Homo sapiens: one gene and its partner. The protein of the gene in region 1 interacts with the protein of each later gene in a pairwise test. Each region holds a gene or a part of one and is shown on either strand. Other genes may lie near its edges.

The links. The genes of interacting proteins can lie anywhere in the genome.
Region 2: the proteins of SASH1 (region 1) and EPS8L2 interact in a two-hybrid assay, tested with the Homo sapiens proteins (one large-scale study listed by BioGRID).

Annotation. Positions count from the first base shown.
Region 1 is NC_000006.12:148,340,929-148,345,999, reverse strand, and holds the start of SASH1 (SAM and SH3 domain-containing protein 1), read right to left. Parts: upstream 3,163-5,071; 5' UTR 2,933-3,162; coding exon 2,777-2,932; intron 1-2,776. UniProt on the Homo sapiens protein: Is a positive regulator of NF-kappa-B signaling downstream of TLR4 activation. It acts as a scaffold molecule to assemble a molecular complex that includes TRAF6, MAP3K7, CHUK and IKBKB, thereby facilitating NF-kappa-B signaling activation.
Region 2 is NC_000011.10:704,758-709,164, reverse strand, and holds the start of EPS8L2 (epidermal growth factor receptor kinase substrate 8-like protein 2), read right to left. Parts: upstream 2,935-4,407; 5' UTR 2,877-2,934; intron 2,594-2,876; exon of another isoform or gene 2,082-2,593; intron 1-2,081. UniProt on the Homo sapiens protein: Stimulates guanine exchange activity of SOS1. May play a role in membrane ruffling and remodeling of the actin cytoskeleton. In the cochlea, is required for stereocilia maintenance in adult hair cells.

The DNA of each region.
Region 1 (5,071 bases):
TCCCAACTACCTCTACTGTCCTCTTCAAGTTCAGTACGGAAAAAGAATCTTGTAAGTCACATTTTACCTAAAACACACAGGATTTCTAAATGTACTGAACTACATTTCTACTGAATTCATCTGAGAGTTAACTATGGAGCGTCATGACATCAGGATCCCTACTGGAGGGGCCAGCGACCAGGGACAAGTCTAACATTGTCACTAACATGGTATGTGCCATTGGCCAAGTCACTTCACCTGTCTAGATTGATAGATGATTGCAAAATCTTATATTTTAAATAAAAAAGGAAGGAAATGGTGTCTCTTGTTTCAGTGAGAATAAAGTCAACTGTTAATTTTGTGTCTTGATGTATTTCCCCGAAGACTCAGTTTGTATAAACACTTGGATGACAGCTTTCCCTCCCTTTTAGCCTGGTGTCTCCCTGCAAGACATCTACAAAGGAGCAGTAAGCCATGTCTTCCTCTGAATTTTACTAAGGAACAATCTCCATGCCTGTTTACCCCAGATAAACAAGAGGAAAACATGAGCAAACACAACCTGTCTGGGACAGGCTTTACGTTCTTCCCAGCCTGATCCTGAATGATTAGCTGAAGTACATATTTTCTTTGCTCCTGCATCTGCCCTTTCAATAGCAGGTTTGAGCTTCTGAAGCCCCACCCCATCTTTTAACTCAGCCAAAGAACACTCCACTACAACTGACCCAACAGTGCTGGAATCTGTCAGGGAAGGGAAAGCAAATCTGCAGAAAATGCCACTGGCCAACCCTCTTCCCCAAAAGAACCCTCAGCCCAAGTTTCATTTAAACAGGCCCCCAATCCTCCCCGCCCCCAGCCCAACGCCCTAGAGTAAGGGATACAATGGGATATTATCAAACCAATTTCCTCAGTGACTGAAAACTTAGAACTGGATCTAGACAAGAAATAACAGGATAACTTAAAAACAGTCTATCGGGCGCGGTGGCTCACGCCTGTAATCCCAGCACTTTGGGAGGCCGAGGTGGGCAGATCACAAGGTCAGGAGTTCGAGACCAGCCTGGCTAACATGGTGAAACCCCGTCTCTACTAAAAATACAAAAATCAGCCGGGTGTGGTGTTGCGCGCCTGTAATCCCAGCTACTCAGGAGGCTGAGGCAGGAAAATTGCTTGAACTCAGGAGGCGGAGGTTGCAGTGAGCTGAGCTCGTGCCACTGCACCCCAGCCTGGGCGACGGAGCAAGACTTCGTCTCAAAAAAAAAAAAAAAAAAGAAAAGAAAAAGTTTATCACAACTTTAAAATGTCCATTAGGTTTTCTGGAACTTCAGTGAAGGATCATATTCATCTGTATACTTCAGAAAATGCAAAAACAAAACCTTTTAAATCTAAAATATATATTAGATTTAGGTATATTATATACATGTGCTATATATAGTATGTAAATATACATTGCATGCATATTTATATACATTTTTCAATACTGGAGAGTGACAAGAGCAGATAGAAATCTTTAACCAACGCTCGCTGGTTCTCTGTATAGTAAGAATCATAAATACCAATGGTCACCTGAAAATGGAGTAACTGGGCTTTTAGGATGTCCAGAAGGAAGAGACAGGAGACTTTGCAGGAAACAAATAAAACCTGAAAGACAGCTACACTTATTGAGCCTCTACTATATGCTATACAGTCTGCTGAGTACTTGATACACACATCAACCCAGCTAAATCTCAGAAACCCCAAGAAGCAAGTCTTCTTTTCTTCAATTTTCAGGTGATGAAACTGAGGATCAGAGAGGTTGAATGACTTGGCCAAGATCATGTAAACAGTCAATTGGAGAGCTGGCATTTGACCTAGTATAACTTACTTTGAAGCCCAAGAGTTTAATCACTGTGCTAAAAACTGTACACGGTTTATCATTCCCAAAGAAGAACTTTCACTCCATCTCCTCCCACTCAAAAAATATAAGATCTCAAAGCAAATCTAGAGACTTTTCTGATAATCTGCACATCTGGCCATTCCAAGTCTTTAAACTAAAGTTGTCTTTTATGTATGGATTAAGATGTCTGACTGTAATAAACCTCGCCCATCTGATTCCAGTCTACCTGCCTAACTACAGCTCCACCAAAGCAAATCTATTACTTCCCCAAGGTATTCAACCCTGAGCAGGTTAAAACTTCACCCTCCATACAGAAGAACTGCTTCCCAGAGACTATGCCAAATCCAGGGGCGCTTTTAGTCACTGGACATTTCAAAATACATGACAGCACAGATTTAGCAAAATAAGTCCTATTGTTTTAGCCCCAAACATATAAAACAAATATCCTGTAACTCCACAAATTGAAAAACTGCAAAAAAAAGTAGGCAAACATTTTGGCAGTTCTGAGTAAGGAAATGTTTGTTTTCCCTCTTGTGGTCACACAACAAATGGTGAAGAGATAAACATCAGTAACATCAGCCTTTTCCCTAATCCAGCACCAACCAAATATTTATTTACATCTACTTTTTGAAGGCCTCTTTCTCGCCTTTTCCACACCAACATGTCAGCAGGTGTCCCAGATTAAACTGTTGAATATCATACCCGATTGTTTAAAAAACACCTTTTGACGGGACCTGTGGCTGGTTATTTTTTAATTAGGGTTTGAAATCCTATACTGTGTGTATTTAGCCCCCTAAGAACTAGAGCCAGAGAAGGACGCCTCTGCGGAGTGGGTTGCCCAGTGGGTGGGCGAGAAGGGAGCCCCCGGTTTCAGAGGGGCTGCTGCGAACTGTACTTCCTGCGCCGCCCCCTCCCCAGGTAACTTACCAGGATACCCATCACGTCGGTCCAGAGTCGGGAGAACGCCTCGGATGTGCCAGCACCCGGCTTGGGCTCCGGTTCCGGCTCCGGCGCGGGCTCGGGCTCCGGCTCGGGCTCGGGCTCAGGCTCCGGCCCCGGGCCAGCTGCTCCCGCGTCCTCCATGGCCGTGTCCCGCGCGCGGGCCGTGCGTCCCAGTCCCCGCGGCGCCCTCGCCCCGCACCCGCGCGCAGCCTGCCCGGATGCCGGGTCCCCGCCCGCGGCGTCACCGAGCCGCGCCCCCGCGCTGCATGCCCCGGCGGCCCCGGCCACCCCGCGGGGGCCCTTCGCAGGCGCCCGCACCTCGGGTCTAGGTGGCCACGGGCTGCGCGACTGACAACTCCAGAAACTTTCCCACCCCGCTCGGCGCAGCAACAGGGTAGCAGGAGGCAAAGTCCGCACCACTGAGTTGTACGGCGGGGAATTCGCTCGGCCCAGAAGCAATTAAACCCACTGCAAAGGCGTTTCTTCCTGTGACGGGAACCAACTAACTAAGGCACGCGACTCGTTCCTTCTAGCAAGTCTTGGCAGGACCCGGCAGGGGTGGCCGCGGAGCCTCTAGATCTTGGAGGGAGCTCCCCGGGACCCCTCTCTTCAAAATGAGCTCTTCCAGCTCCACATGACTCTCTCCCTCGAGGCTAAAGAAAGCGTTTAGCAACAAAAGGTGCTCTGATGTCAGGCTCTTTGCATGGAAATGAGCCTCGGACAGGAGAACAAATCGCCTGTTGAAAGAGCAGCCGCGCCGCGGTCTCCGGCCCGCACAAGTTTCCAATCACGCTATTCACGGAAACGCTTTTGGTAACGGAAACCCGAGAAAGTTAATCTTTAAGCGACTCCCGCCCAAAGGCTTCACAAGTAGTCCGTGTCGCTACAATGCATACCTCGCCCCTCGTGAAGTCAAGCGACCCAAGGAATTACAAATCCTGCCTCTGCCAGCCAAGACTTCTCTGCAAAACAAGTGTGAAAGCTTGGGCACGAGCCATTGTTTGGATCATTTTTTATGAGTGGGGGCATTTTGGCTCCTGAATGCCCACAATGCCATGCATTGCTAGGGCTTTCGGCTAATTAAGGGAAATGCGCTTTGGGTTTTAATTATTCCTTTACATTAGGGACACAGGGAAGGGCTATTTTCGAAACTAAATTCAAATGATTGTGTAGCCAGTCAGCCTACACACACTTGGGGCCCTGTGTGTGTTTTTCCAAGGGGAAGCCCCAGGACAGATTTATTTTATAAGGGAACTAGCCCTGGAGAGGTGATTTTTCCCTTTTGTGATTCTATCTTTCAAGACTACTCAGAGTTTTCCTTGGAAGGTGACAATGCACGTCACATTCGATTTGGTGATTGATCACTTTTGAAACAGTTAAGAAACCACATGGAGTTTGCTCCTCTGTTAGGGCCTTGTGGTTTAAAAGGAAAAAAAAAAGTGAGATGCCCCAGGGAGAGAGCCCTGCTTGTTTTGAGGCCTCTCCTGTTTCTTGTTGATTGTGGGGTTTTTTTTGTTTGTTTGTTTGTTTTGTTTTGTTTTGTTTTGTTTTCCTTCTGAGTCCACTTGAAAGGGGATAAGAGCATGTCCTTGAATTCCCCTTGTTCAAGTATTAAGTGCTGTGAGCACCAATCAATGCAATGGGTGAATAGTCCTTACAGGAAAGTTCAAAATGTAAAAACATTTTCAAAAGTAACTAAATTTATAAACACAATCCCTGATAATTTTTGTGTGTTTTTGGCGGGTGCGGGGCTGGCGCCTGTAATCCCAGCACTTTGGGAGGCTGAGGCGGGCGAATCACTTGAGGCCAGGATTTTGAGAACAGCCTGGTCAACACAGCAAAACCCTGTCTCTACTAAAAATACAAAAAAAAAAAAAACAAAAAAAAAAAACAAAACATAGCAAGAGTGTTGGAACATGCCTGTAATCCCAGCTACTCAGGAGGCTGAGGCAGGAGAATAGCTTGAACCCAGGAGGCGAAGGTTACAGTGAGGTCCTGCTGCTGCACTCCAGCCTGGGTGACAGAGGAAGACTCTCTGTCTCCAAAGAAAAAAAAAGTATGCTGAAAAATTTTTTTAGAGACAAGGTCCTGCTCTCTCACCCCGGCAGTGCAGTGCTGCAATCGTAGCTCACTGCGGCCTTGAACTCCTGGGCTCAAGCAATCCTCCTGCCTCAACCACCTGAGTAGCAGGGACTACAGGCACACCGCTGCACCAGACTAATTTTTTAAATTTTTTATAGAGACATGATCTCTTGCTGTTGCCCAAGGTGGTCTCAAACT
Region 2 (4,407 bases), on another chromosome or scaffold:
TCCCAGTTGACAGTCGATCAGCCTCGTCATGCCTCAGACCCTAGGTGCTCCACAGGGACCCCCCAGAGGCTGACTGGGAGGCTCTGACAAGGGCCCTGGGGGCAGAAGGCGCCTTCCAAGCTGGGCAGCATGGAGTTTAAGGCCCTGGTGCTGTGGGGAGGGGGGTGGGATGGGTAAGGGGAGGGGGATGAGGTGGGAGTGTGGGGGGAGGGGGGTGCGGTGGGGGTTGGGGGAGGGCGGGTGGGAGCTGCAGGATGGCAGGAGAGGTGAGGCTGGAGTTGGGGTAGGTCCTGAAGTCCAGAGGGAGCCCGGCTCTAGCCGCCACTCCTGCCCCACCCCAGGCCTGCACCCCAAGGGGCTCCTGCACCCACATGTGGACTTGCCACCCACACATGCCACCTCTGTCCAGGCCCCAGCAAAGAGGCTGGCCCTTGGCTCTTTCCTGGGCCTGGGAGACCTGGCAGGGAAGAGGCTGTGCGGGCAGGAAACCCTGGGGTCCCCGGGGTGCAGTGTTTCCTCACCTCGAGGGCAGGGATGCGGCCAGGTGGCCAGCGCAGAACCCCTGGCAGCAGCCAAGCCTAGGGGAGGGACTGGAGGGCAGGTGTGGTGGGGGCTGAGACTGGGAGCCAGTCCAGTGGCCCCAACACACAGTATCACTGCCCCTCCAACGAGGTAGGGTGGCTATGGGGCAGGTGCCTCTGGCCTCCCCCAGGGGCAGAATCCTCAGAGCCTGTCTCTGGGCTCCTAGTGCTGACCTCTTCCCCGAGCATTTTGGGGAAACTAAGGCCCAGCCGCCAGGGCAGACAGGTGGGTCTGATTTGGGCTGGACCCTAGGGGCTTCCCGGGGGGATGGACAGAGCCTGATGGCCCTGAACCAGGCTGACTTGTCCCAAGGGGACTATGCCCTGTGGGGACCTGGCTGTTCTGTGGCTCTGTGATCAGCTCCCCACAGGTCCACACCATCTGCCTCCTGCCAGGGCTGCAGGGCTGTCCCCTGTGGCTTCAGAGTTTGGGTCTGCCACGGTGGGGGTCACCAGCCACTGCTGTTGGTATGGAGGGTCAAGGGAGTGGCTCGGAGCACCCGGGACTTTCTGGTTTGACCAGGTCTGGCCTAGTGGGAGGGTCTGGGAGGCCCGGGGGCACTGCCGCTGACATGAGGGGCTGGGTGCACCAGGGGGTATGGCCACTTCCTCCATCCATCTATCCGTGGAGAATGTCTGGAATGTTCACGGGCTCAGTGGCGAGCCTGAGTGTTTGCTTAATGGGATTCCTGGCGGGCTCCACCAAGGGCGCCAGGCACGTGTGTCCAGGCACACACCTGGGCGAGACACCAACGCACCCTTGCAGACTCAGGCCTGGGGGCACGCAAACATGGAGGGCTGTGACACGCGACCCCCCTGGGGAAGGCCAGGTTCCTGGCCTTCGGTTGCCTGCAGGGCATCGGGGACCTCAGGCCCAGGCAGGGCCGGGCAGCAGTGGGGTGGGTCCAGGTGTGGTGTCTGGGTCTGAAGCACATGGGTATGGGGCTGCCTCCTGCCCTGTGGGAGCCCCGCCCCCCTGGGGAGGCTTCTTTGGCCCACTGGTGGTGGGGACGAAGCCCTGGAGGCCCAGGCTGCACTTTGTACTGTGGTCATTTTCCCGGTGTGAAGTGAGGCAGAGCGGGGTGCCCGGTCAGTCGGGCTGTGGAGGGGAGGAGGTCCCAGCAGGGCAGGAGGGTAGAGGGACGGGCTCCAAGTTCAAGTTCCAGCTCCACATGCTGAGTGACCTTGGGGAGGGGTCAGCTGAGTCACAGGGGCTCCAGGCTGCCCTCATAGGCGCTGGGTGGGGCCCTGGAATGGGGAGGCCCCTCAGGCCCTGGCCCTGTCCTTGTTTGGAAGCTATGGCTTGAGGGAGGAAGGGATAAGCTGGGGAAGCTGAGGGTGGGAAAGGAGACCGAGGCAGGCGGAGAAGGCCCGGTGGGAGAGCTATGCCAACAAGGCCTGGGTGCTAAGCAGGCCCGGGAGAGGCTGGGACCCAGGAGGGGCCGCGAGGGGAGGAGGGGCCGCGAGGGGAGGGGCCGCCGCCAGCTGGGCCTGCCTCCCAGCACAGCCGACCCAGGACTGAGCACGGGGTGGGTGGGGGCAGAGGTCCGGGCATGCCCGGCCCTGCCTCCCCCTCCCCTGCCACCAGGGACACCCCGCAGCAAGGGGCAACGCCAGGCAGCTGGACGCAGGGACCAGGAATCTAGGATGGCTGAAGTTCGCGTGCCCACAGGCTCCTGCCAGCCCACCCTCCTGCCTCTCCTGGCAGGGCCTCTGCAGCCCCTGTCCCAGCCTCCCCTCCTCCCTGAAACTCCCACCCCCAACCCTGACCTGGAGACTGACCCAGCTGGTGCTTCCCGGCCACTGGTTTCCTTCTGGGCTCCGACACCCAGGAAGTGCCTCCTGGCTCCGGCCCACAGGGAGTGGGTGTGCAGTGCTACCTCCACGGTCAGGCCCTCGGGAGGGTCCTGCTGCTCACAGAACCGGGAGAAGCCTCCCTACCACCAGCGCTCTCCGGACGCAGGGATTGCCCCCACCAAGCCCCAGAGCTGGGAGTGGGCAGGACGGGGCAGGTGAGTCACCCATCGCTGGCTTAAAAATATCCTTGCTCGCCGGCCGCCGCCCAGGACCGACGGGGGCAGGCCGGGCTGCAGCAGGACCCGTCCAGGAGAGGTGGGGACTCGACCAGGCCCCCAGCCCCTTGCCCCGCGCCCTCGGCCCGGCCGCCCTCCAAGTGCCCCGCGCCCTGCGACGCCGCGTTCGTCCCGGTGTCCTGAACCAGAAGCCCCGCGTCCCATCGCCACCGGGTAAACTGAGGCCCGGGCGGGCGCGCTCCCCCGTGTCCGCAGCGCTCACCTGCCTCCGGCGCCCCGCGCTCGGCCTGTCCCCTCGGCGCTCGCCGGTGCGTCCGTCTGTTCGCGCCTCGGCCGGGGCGCCAGGTCTCCCGCGGGCGGGTGGGACGCTCGGCGGGGCCGGGCCGGGGCGGGGCCGGGAGAGGAGGAACCTGAGCGACAGGTTGCGGAGTCACCCGAGAGCGGGCGGGCGCGCGGGGGAGGAGGGCGTGGGATGGAGGCGCCCCCGCCGGCCTCGGACCCAGCTCCGCCCCGCCCCCTGCCCCGCCTGGGCTCCAGCCCCAGCCCTCTGCGTCCTCCCCAACACCCGCCTGGTGTGCCCCTCCGCGGGCCTAGCCCCTAGAGCTGGGGCGCTGGGGACAGGCGGGGCGCAGGGCCGCCTCCGCGGGATGAGCAGGGCGAGGCCTCGAGCTCTTCCTTGGGCAGGGCCTAGCTGCGCCCCAGCAGGCCGGGGGACGGGGGAACGCTGCCAATGGGACTTCGGGGGCAGCGCTGGCGCATTGCTGGGGAGGGCTCCAGCCCTGGGGAGGTCAGAGCCTCCGCCGGGCCAGGTGCACCCCTCAGGTGCCCCAGGCATGGGGCAGAGTCACTTCCCTTACCGGGCCCACCGCAGGCCCAGGGGCAGAGGCTTCGGTGAGTGGGTGGGTGTCAGGCAGGACCCAGCCATGCCCACCCCAGGCCTGGAGCCCTGAGTTCACAGTGCAGCTGCTCCTCCAGGCCCCCCTTTCTGCCCAGCCTGGGCACTGAGGGATGGGGTGTCAGGGGAGGTGGGGACACCTCAGGCCCTCTCAGGATGCCTCTCTCCTTGCACTGCCCCGTGGTCAGGCCCAGGCCCCACCTCTGCCCACCACAGTGGGACTGTCTGGTTCCGTCCTCATCTGCCCGGCTTCCAGGATGGCCCTTCTCCCCAGCTGCTGTGACCGCTCAGAACAGGGCCAGGGTGCAGTGGACACAGCGGGTAGCACCGGCTGCCACAGCAGTCAACTGGACGAGGACGAGGTGAAGGGGCACAGGGCGCCCCAGGCCCATGCAGGGACCCAAGGCTCCGGCTGCCGGTCCTGGGTAGGGGTGGGAATGAGCGTGGCCAAGAGTCTGGGTCCCCGGGCTATGGTCCCAGAGGGGCAGGGCTAGCGTGTTTACCCTGGGCTGGCCGGAGCACTTCCTGGGGAGGCGCCATAGGTGAGCTCGGTGGAGGGCTGGCAGGAAGTGGCCCTCCTCCTTCGGGCCCAGTGCCTGCCCCTGAGCCCAGGCAAGACCTGGCTTCCTGGTTTACAGCCTTTGCCGTTTGATCTCCAGGAACCTGCCGTGATCCTGCTCCATGCATGAGCTTGCCCTGACCCAGAGCTCAGGGTCACACACGCCAACCCCTCGGTGCACCCGTGCCCTCACCCTTCCTGGAGGCAGAGCTGGGAGTGGCCAAGTGGGAAACAGGCGCTGGAGAGGACAGCTGGGGGGTGGGGTCCCTCTCCACTCCTAAACGGGTGCCTGTCAACACGATTTTGAGTGCGGAGCCTGCCCTCAGGAGACAGTCCAGG